2 linked regions of the Homo sapiens genome follow. The protein of the gene in region 1 purifies or fractionates together with the protein of each later gene. This does not show direct contact. Each region holds a gene or a part of one and is shown on either strand. Other genes may lie near its edges.

Region 1 (3,469 bases):
AAAAGCATTTAATACGCCTAACCTACTAAACATCATTAACTTGGCCTAGCCCTACCTTAAACATGCCCAGAACAGTTACATTAGACTGCAGGTGGCAAAATCATCTAGGGCAAAGGCTTTCATTTTATAATAAAAGCGATTATTTTAAAATAAAGTGTCTCAAGTAATTTATCGAATACTATACATTACATCGTAATTGCAATGGTTTTGCATCATCATAAAGTCAAAAACTTCTAAGTTGAACCATGGTAAGTCGTGGACTATCTGTATTCCTAAACATGTATCTGTCCCAACGAACTGCTAGCCAGCAAAAGCTAGAAAAGCTATAGACAGATTAAGCAATTTAGTATTGACTGAATCATTTTATTATTCCCAGAAAACACAGCAGTAAATCTTGGCTCAAGATTTAGAAGCAGCCTGACCTCGTCTACGGAGGACTCCTCAATCAGGCGAGGGGCCTCTGCAGACAGGATGCCGTGGGTGGCCATAACATAGATCTTATAGGCGCCTCTCTCTTTCAGGATCTCCGCGGCAGCAACAAAACTCTCCACATCGTCAATAATGTCATCCTGGGAGGAGAACAGAGTGAGTTGGTAGGAAAGAAACACCCTCTAGCCCATACTGTCAATGCACACACCACTCTACTCTCTTCTGCACTCAGTTTCAGAGGATTTCTGATGGAAAATCAGAGCTGTGTGCCTGGGTCAAAGAACGAGCATCCAGAAATGGCAACAGAAGCACCTGACAGTACCTTGTGTGTCTGTCAGAGGCGGGCGCAGTCAAGCACCTGTGACATTACGGCTGGAGCTGAGGATTGCCAACACTCATTTTCCTGTCTCACGTTTCTGGTGAATCCCACATAGCCAGCGTTCCATTTATTTTTTTTTCAAATAGACTGTGACATGAGAAGAAAACTGAAATAAAGTGTGCTACTGCAAAGGACTCATGACCCACTAGCCAGCAGATATTTAGAGCTGGGAAAAAAAGTATGTCAACATGCAGAACGAGTCTGCACGGGGACACCCATTCTTACTTGTGAAAACGGAACAGCTCATCTTCAGTTCATCTTTCGGCCCTAACGCTCAAGCATGATTAGGTGAGCTGGTTTAAAGAACCTAGAATCCACATGATGAAGGTGAAGGTGCTGAATTTTCTCACGGGAGTACTGTGCTCATTTCCTATCTGTAGGTTATACTTTAATGTATGTTCACCTGGATACAGGTTTCTGCCACTTGGCACAAGGGAGTTTGGGTGAGAAAGGATACATGGATCCATTCGGATCATCGTTCCTAGAAATACAGTCCCAGAGTGGACAACCTACTGACCAAGAGCCAGGAGTGCCACCTCTGCACATGGATGACATATAACCATACCACGATGATTGCGATGCGGCCTCCAACATCTCCAACTACAGTTATCGGTGGCTTCTCTTTGGCCATCATCACTAGCAAAACAAAACAAATTACAAGATCTCAGTCATTCATGTATCACTAGAGAAATGTAATCACAACCTAATTCCCTGGAAATGGTGGCAAAACCACTATACAGACAAAAAACAAACAAACCATGCAAATTCCCCCTCAATGAACCTGCAATCTCTCAGAAACAGCAGCATTGGCCAAAAGAAATAGAAGGCATGCCATACATGTTACTTTGAATTTTCTAGTAGCCACATTAAAAACAGATGAAATTAATACATTTTATTTTATGCAATTCCCAAAATATTATAATTTCAACATGTAACTGATATAAAAATGTATGTATGTATGTATGTATGTATGTATTTTTTGAGACGGAGTTTTGCTCTTGTTGCCCAGGCTGGAGTGCAATGACGCGATCTTGGCTCACTGCAACCTCCGCCTCCCAGGTTCAAGCAATTCTGCCTCAGCCTCCCGAGTAGCTGGGATTATAGGCATGCGCCACCACACCCAGCTGAGTTTTGTATTTTTAGTAGAGATGGGGTTTCTCCACGTTGGTCAGGCTGGTCTCGAACTCCTGACCTCAGGTGATCCACCCGCCTCAGCCTCCCAAAGTGCTGGGATTACAAGCTTGAGCCACCACGCCCAACCTGATATAAAAATTAATGAGATGTTTTACACTTTTTTTTCTCAGAGGGGATCTTGCTATGTTGCCCCGGCTCATTTCAAACTGGAAGCAAACAATCCTCCTACCTCAGCCTCCCAAAGTGCTAGGATTATAGGCATGAGCCACCGCACCCAGCCTTACACTTTTTTCCTATCAAGTCTTCTCTACTTGGTGTGTGTTTTATACGCACAGCACTTCTCAGTTGAGACGGGCCGTGTCTCATGAGCTCAGCAGCCAGCACATTGCACTGCACAGCACAGCTGGAAAGACAACGAACCAGCAGAGCATGGAAGATTCTGCCAACACGGAGAAGCTGCACCGCAGTGCTGTGTGGATAGAAACCCCACTCTCACAGAGACTGACAGAGACATGCAGAAGGAATGCCGCTCTGCAGAAAGCGAAACAGCGAAAGGCTGCCAGATCATGAGATGGCTTTATGTTATTTTCTTCCAAAGTCACCTTATTTGGACAGTGTAACCTTACTATCAGATAACTGCACTACTGACATAATCAGAGTTTCCTCAAAATCAGGAACTTGAAGACAATAACTCCAGGCCCATCATCTTTTCCTGATTTAATTGGTGCTTAAAGTAGAGACTTTTATCTGACTGCAAAATCTGCATCTGAAGAAAGGCTATGAGTGTACAAAGGAAACTACAGGATAAAGAAAGGAAATAAGATTTTATCCTCAAAAGGAGGTTAGTAAACAGAGAAGAAAAACAAAGACTACTTCAGAAGAACAGGCTAAGTATTCTTTCTTTAAACTTTGTTATTATTCTGAAATATTTATTAGGCTAGTAGTGGGGGAAGCGAAAGAGAATAAAATTCAGGGTAACAAGAGTTTAGTGACTACCAACAAACAATTTTTGCAGATTCCCAACAGGCACTGTGTATCTCAAAGAACAGGTGTTTTTCTCTGTATACTGGCAAATCAGTTGAGCTGAAATTCACCACTACTTTATACATTTCAACAAACATATATTTCCTGATTTCACATCCTAGAAACAAAGACAACTTCTTGAATTTGGGCAAGACAAGAAGGCTTTGCATATAAAATCACTTAAAATGGGGGGAGGGGGGTTTCAAACCACCAACATTAGGAGCAGCTTCCTGAGATTCTGTTTTTAAATTAAACCATGTAAACACGCAGTTATGTTGACCTATCCGCTTTTTTTTTTTTTTTTTTTTTTTTTTTTTCTTGAGACAGAGTCTCACTCTGTCTCCCAGGCTGGAGTGCAGTGGCACGATCTCGGCTCACTGCAACCTCTGCCTCCTGGGCTCAAGCGATTCTCCTGCTTCAGCCTCCTAAGTAGCTGGGATTACAGGCACGTGCCACCACATCTGGCTAATTTTTTGTATTTTTAGCAGAGGTGGGGTTTCACCA
Region 2 (3,500 bases), on another chromosome or scaffold:
GACGGTCCCTCAGCCCCACGGTCACCGAGCCACAGGCGGCGCTTTCTCTGACTTCCCAGGCATCCTCGTGCCTGGCCGAGGTGTGACTGGGCTCCCTGGGAGCCCTTTCCTAGGCCAGACTGGGCCTCCCCCTGCCCCTCCTCGCCCAGCGGACCGAGTGGGGGCCAATGTGGGCAGGAAATGCGGCCCCCATGCGGGGCAGGCCTGGACCGGCTGGGGCGGGAGCACTGGATGCACTCCTGTGCACACCAATTCCAGGCAGCTTTAGAAGGCTGTAGTGGTCCCACAGGGGCTGGGAAGCAAACCTGTGATGATAACCTCAGGGTAAGCTGCTTTCTGCCAGGCTATTGAACGCAAACCAAAGCCTTATGATAGGCATGACTTCCCACTCAGGGAGTAAGATGAGAGCAACCGTGGTTAAAATTCCAAATGTGACCTTCTCTCCTCTCTAACAATGAGAAGGCCACAAAGTACATTGTATTTGCCACATTATGGATGTGGAGAGAGAAGGGAATAGACGCCGCTATGTGAGGTTGATAAAGGCTCTCCTAAGAGCTGCATTTTACAGACCTTTTATTTGCTTGCCAGCCACGAGAGAATGCTAATTTAACAATGACACATTTTTTCAGGGACAATACATACATACTGGAATTAGCTTGCATTCATCAACAGCACTCAAATGAACTACAGGAATAATGTGCACATTTTGTAGACCATTGCATTCAGCTAATTCTCAGCAACATTCCATTTATGTATCTCGGGAGGAAATTCTGTGGATTGGAGTACAGGTAATATGTCGTTGCTGCTGCTGTTATGTTTTTTGTTCTTACAATTACACTAAATCTGCTACCATTGGTGAAGTAGGCAAGAAGTTTAATGTATGGCTAAAAGGAAATGACTGGCAAAGGACTGACAGCTGAATACTGCAGATGGCAGGTTCATGAACATGGAAAAACAGCATATTTTGACTGGTTCCTCTTTCTGTAGCAACTTAATACTCTAAATAGTCATAATCATAATAGTTCAAGTGACATTTGATATTTGGCTAAACATAAGAAGAAAAAAATTATCTAACTTCATATAACTCACCCAATGTGTTAGATAGCAAAACAGTTTCTACAGTTGTGCTTTTGTTTTGTTTTGTTTTGTTTTTTGGTACAGTAGCTTTTTGAACTTAGCTAATAGCCCTCAGGTATTTTTTTTTTTTTTTGAGGTAGAGTCTAGCTCTGTTGCCCAGGCTGGAGTGCAGTGGCGTGAACTCGGCTCACTGCAACCTCTGCCTCCTGGGTTCAAGCGATTCTCCTGCTTCAGCCTCCCGAGTAGCTGGGACTACAGATGCACACTACCATGCCCAGCTAAGTTTTGTATTTTTAGAAGAGATGGGGTTTCACCTTGTTGGCCAGGCTGGTCTCGAACTCCTGACCTCAGGTGATCTGCCCTCCTCGGCCTTCCAAAGTGCTGGGATTACAGGCATGAACCACTGCGCCCAGCCCCTCAGGTAAATCTAAGTTCCCCTGAAGTTGGTAGCCAAACTTAAATTCTCTTTGGCTTCCTACACACTACATTTCTTTTTCCCCAAATTGCCTTCTAGCAAAAAGATGCTAACATCTTTAGCTCTGCTGCCAAGTTCAGCTTTGTCTCAGACCAGCTCAGCCTCTTCCTATGAGTGACAACCATTTTTCACACGACTCAAAGACTACAAACTGTCACTCCAACTATCTGTGCCAAAACCTCTCATACTCGTCCTGGCTCTTGCTCCTCATAGTGCTCTGAGGATTTGAAACTCAAAATATTGGCCTCTCAAAAAAGTTGAAAAAGATTTTGGGTAAGCAGATCCTCAAAGCACACGCTAAAGCTTCTGCACAGTAGACATTTTGTGAACAGTCCAGTGACAGTGTCTTTTTAGTGAATGACAGGAGGAAAATCCAAGCTGACTGAGTCTTCTTGACCACTAGGGGGCTTCACTGGACCACAACCCATATCACACTGGCAAATGAGTGAAAATGATTGTTCTTCATTGTTTACCTGTTTATAAGGGCGATTTTCCACAATCAAAGTAGGCCCTTTGTAATTGTCAGGAATTATATAATAACAAAAATAGGATGCTTCTCTTAAAAATAGCAACTAATCTTTTAAAAAGGAGGACAAAATTTGAATTTTATAATAATAACAAGAATGGCTGGGGAGAAAAAAGACTAAATGTGATGAGAAATGAGAATTTATAATTCAACCACACCAACTATTACTAACCTTATGGCTAACGTTTTTTTTTTTTCCAGCAACAATCATTTCCAAGTAAGTAGGCAACAATTAGGTTTTTTCAACCTCTGTATTGTTTTTCTTCAGTGGCTTGGAAATTCAGGGACATAGATGGAAATAGTTTTTTACAAGGTCTATCATTCTGGGAAAATTTTCCCAAGTAACAAGAATCATAAAGTCTTTTGAAAAAGTATCTTCACTTATTTGCTTCCTCAATACACCCATTTCACCAAGTAAGACAGTTATTTATCGTTACAAAATGTTATCTACTACCCTAATCAAAGGCTGATATCACTGGATTTCCTGAGCCAAAGATATCTATGCCTTAGCTGAGCTAGAGACTCTTCCATATTACCCTTATGTCTGTGTATATATCTAGAAGTGTCTTGACACAGGTTTTCATGGGCATGGAAGAAAAATCCCAGAAAAGGCAAATGACTTTCTTTTTGATATATACATGTACTTTTAAAGCGTCTTGATTTTTACATCGATGTGTAAAAAAGCTAAGAAACATCATTTAGGCTGGCAGAATGATGTACTGATTGCTGCCTTATGATTCCTTATGCGAAATAGCCCTGAATACATTAATATGAATATGAAATAGCCATAAAACCTGCTATTGGTTTTATGCTTTCAAATACTGTTTGATTTTGATGTATTTTGTTCTATGTAACTTGTTCTGAAGATTGCATTACACCTTGCCCTTTGTTCAGAATGTTTTGTGGTAGCTTTTAGCCAAAAGTTCTGAACTCTCTTTTGAGTTAACAAGGCCAGAGCACCTGGCCAGAGAACACCAATCACCTCCAAGAGGATAGCAGGCCAAAAGCATTTTGGAAGTGTGGAAGTGCATCTGATGTGGAAAGAAAATTGATATTTAAAAAACTGGGATGAAAGAAGATGCTGCTTTCCTTCTATTAAAACTTACGAACAAGCCACAAAACTAGGGTAATCAGGCCCTTGACAAGACCTACCTGAGGCATGAAGTGGGGTTCTTTTGGTTACATTGTCTTTCACAAAGATGGATGCGCCCTGATTGATAAGCGCTTCCACACATTCTGTGTGTCCTTTAAAGGCAGCCAGATCCAGAGCAGTGCGGCCTTTCTCATCCCTGATGTCCAGGTCCACCAACGACTGCAGAAGGACTTCCAAGGCTTGATGGTGCCCATTGTAGGCCTGCAAAGAAGAAACCAATGGCTCCCATGCTTGCTCGCTCACCTCAAATCCCGCCACAGTCCACAGGA

Evidence for each region. The genes of interacting proteins can lie anywhere in the genome.
Region 2: the proteins of PRPSAP1 (region 1) and ANKRD44 purify together in Homo sapiens (affinity purification with mass spectrometry; one large-scale study listed by BioGRID and IntAct). This does not show direct contact.

What each region holds. Positions count from the first base shown.
Region 1 is NC_000017.11:76,312,448-76,315,916, forward strand, and holds part of PRPSAP1 (phosphoribosyl pyrophosphate synthase-associated protein 1), read right to left. Parts: intron 1,445-3,469; coding exon 1,374-1,444; intron 570-1,373; coding exon 423-569; intron 1-422. UniProt on the Homo sapiens protein: Seems to play a negative regulatory role in 5-phosphoribose 1-diphosphate synthesis.
Region 2 is NC_000002.12:197,010,281-197,013,780, forward strand, and holds part of ANKRD44 (serine/threonine-protein phosphatase 6 regulatory ankyrin repeat subunit B), read right to left. Parts: intron 3,433-3,500; coding exon 3,231-3,432; intron 1-3,230. UniProt on the Homo sapiens protein: Putative regulatory subunit of protein phosphatase 6 (PP6) that may be involved in the recognition of phosphoprotein substrates.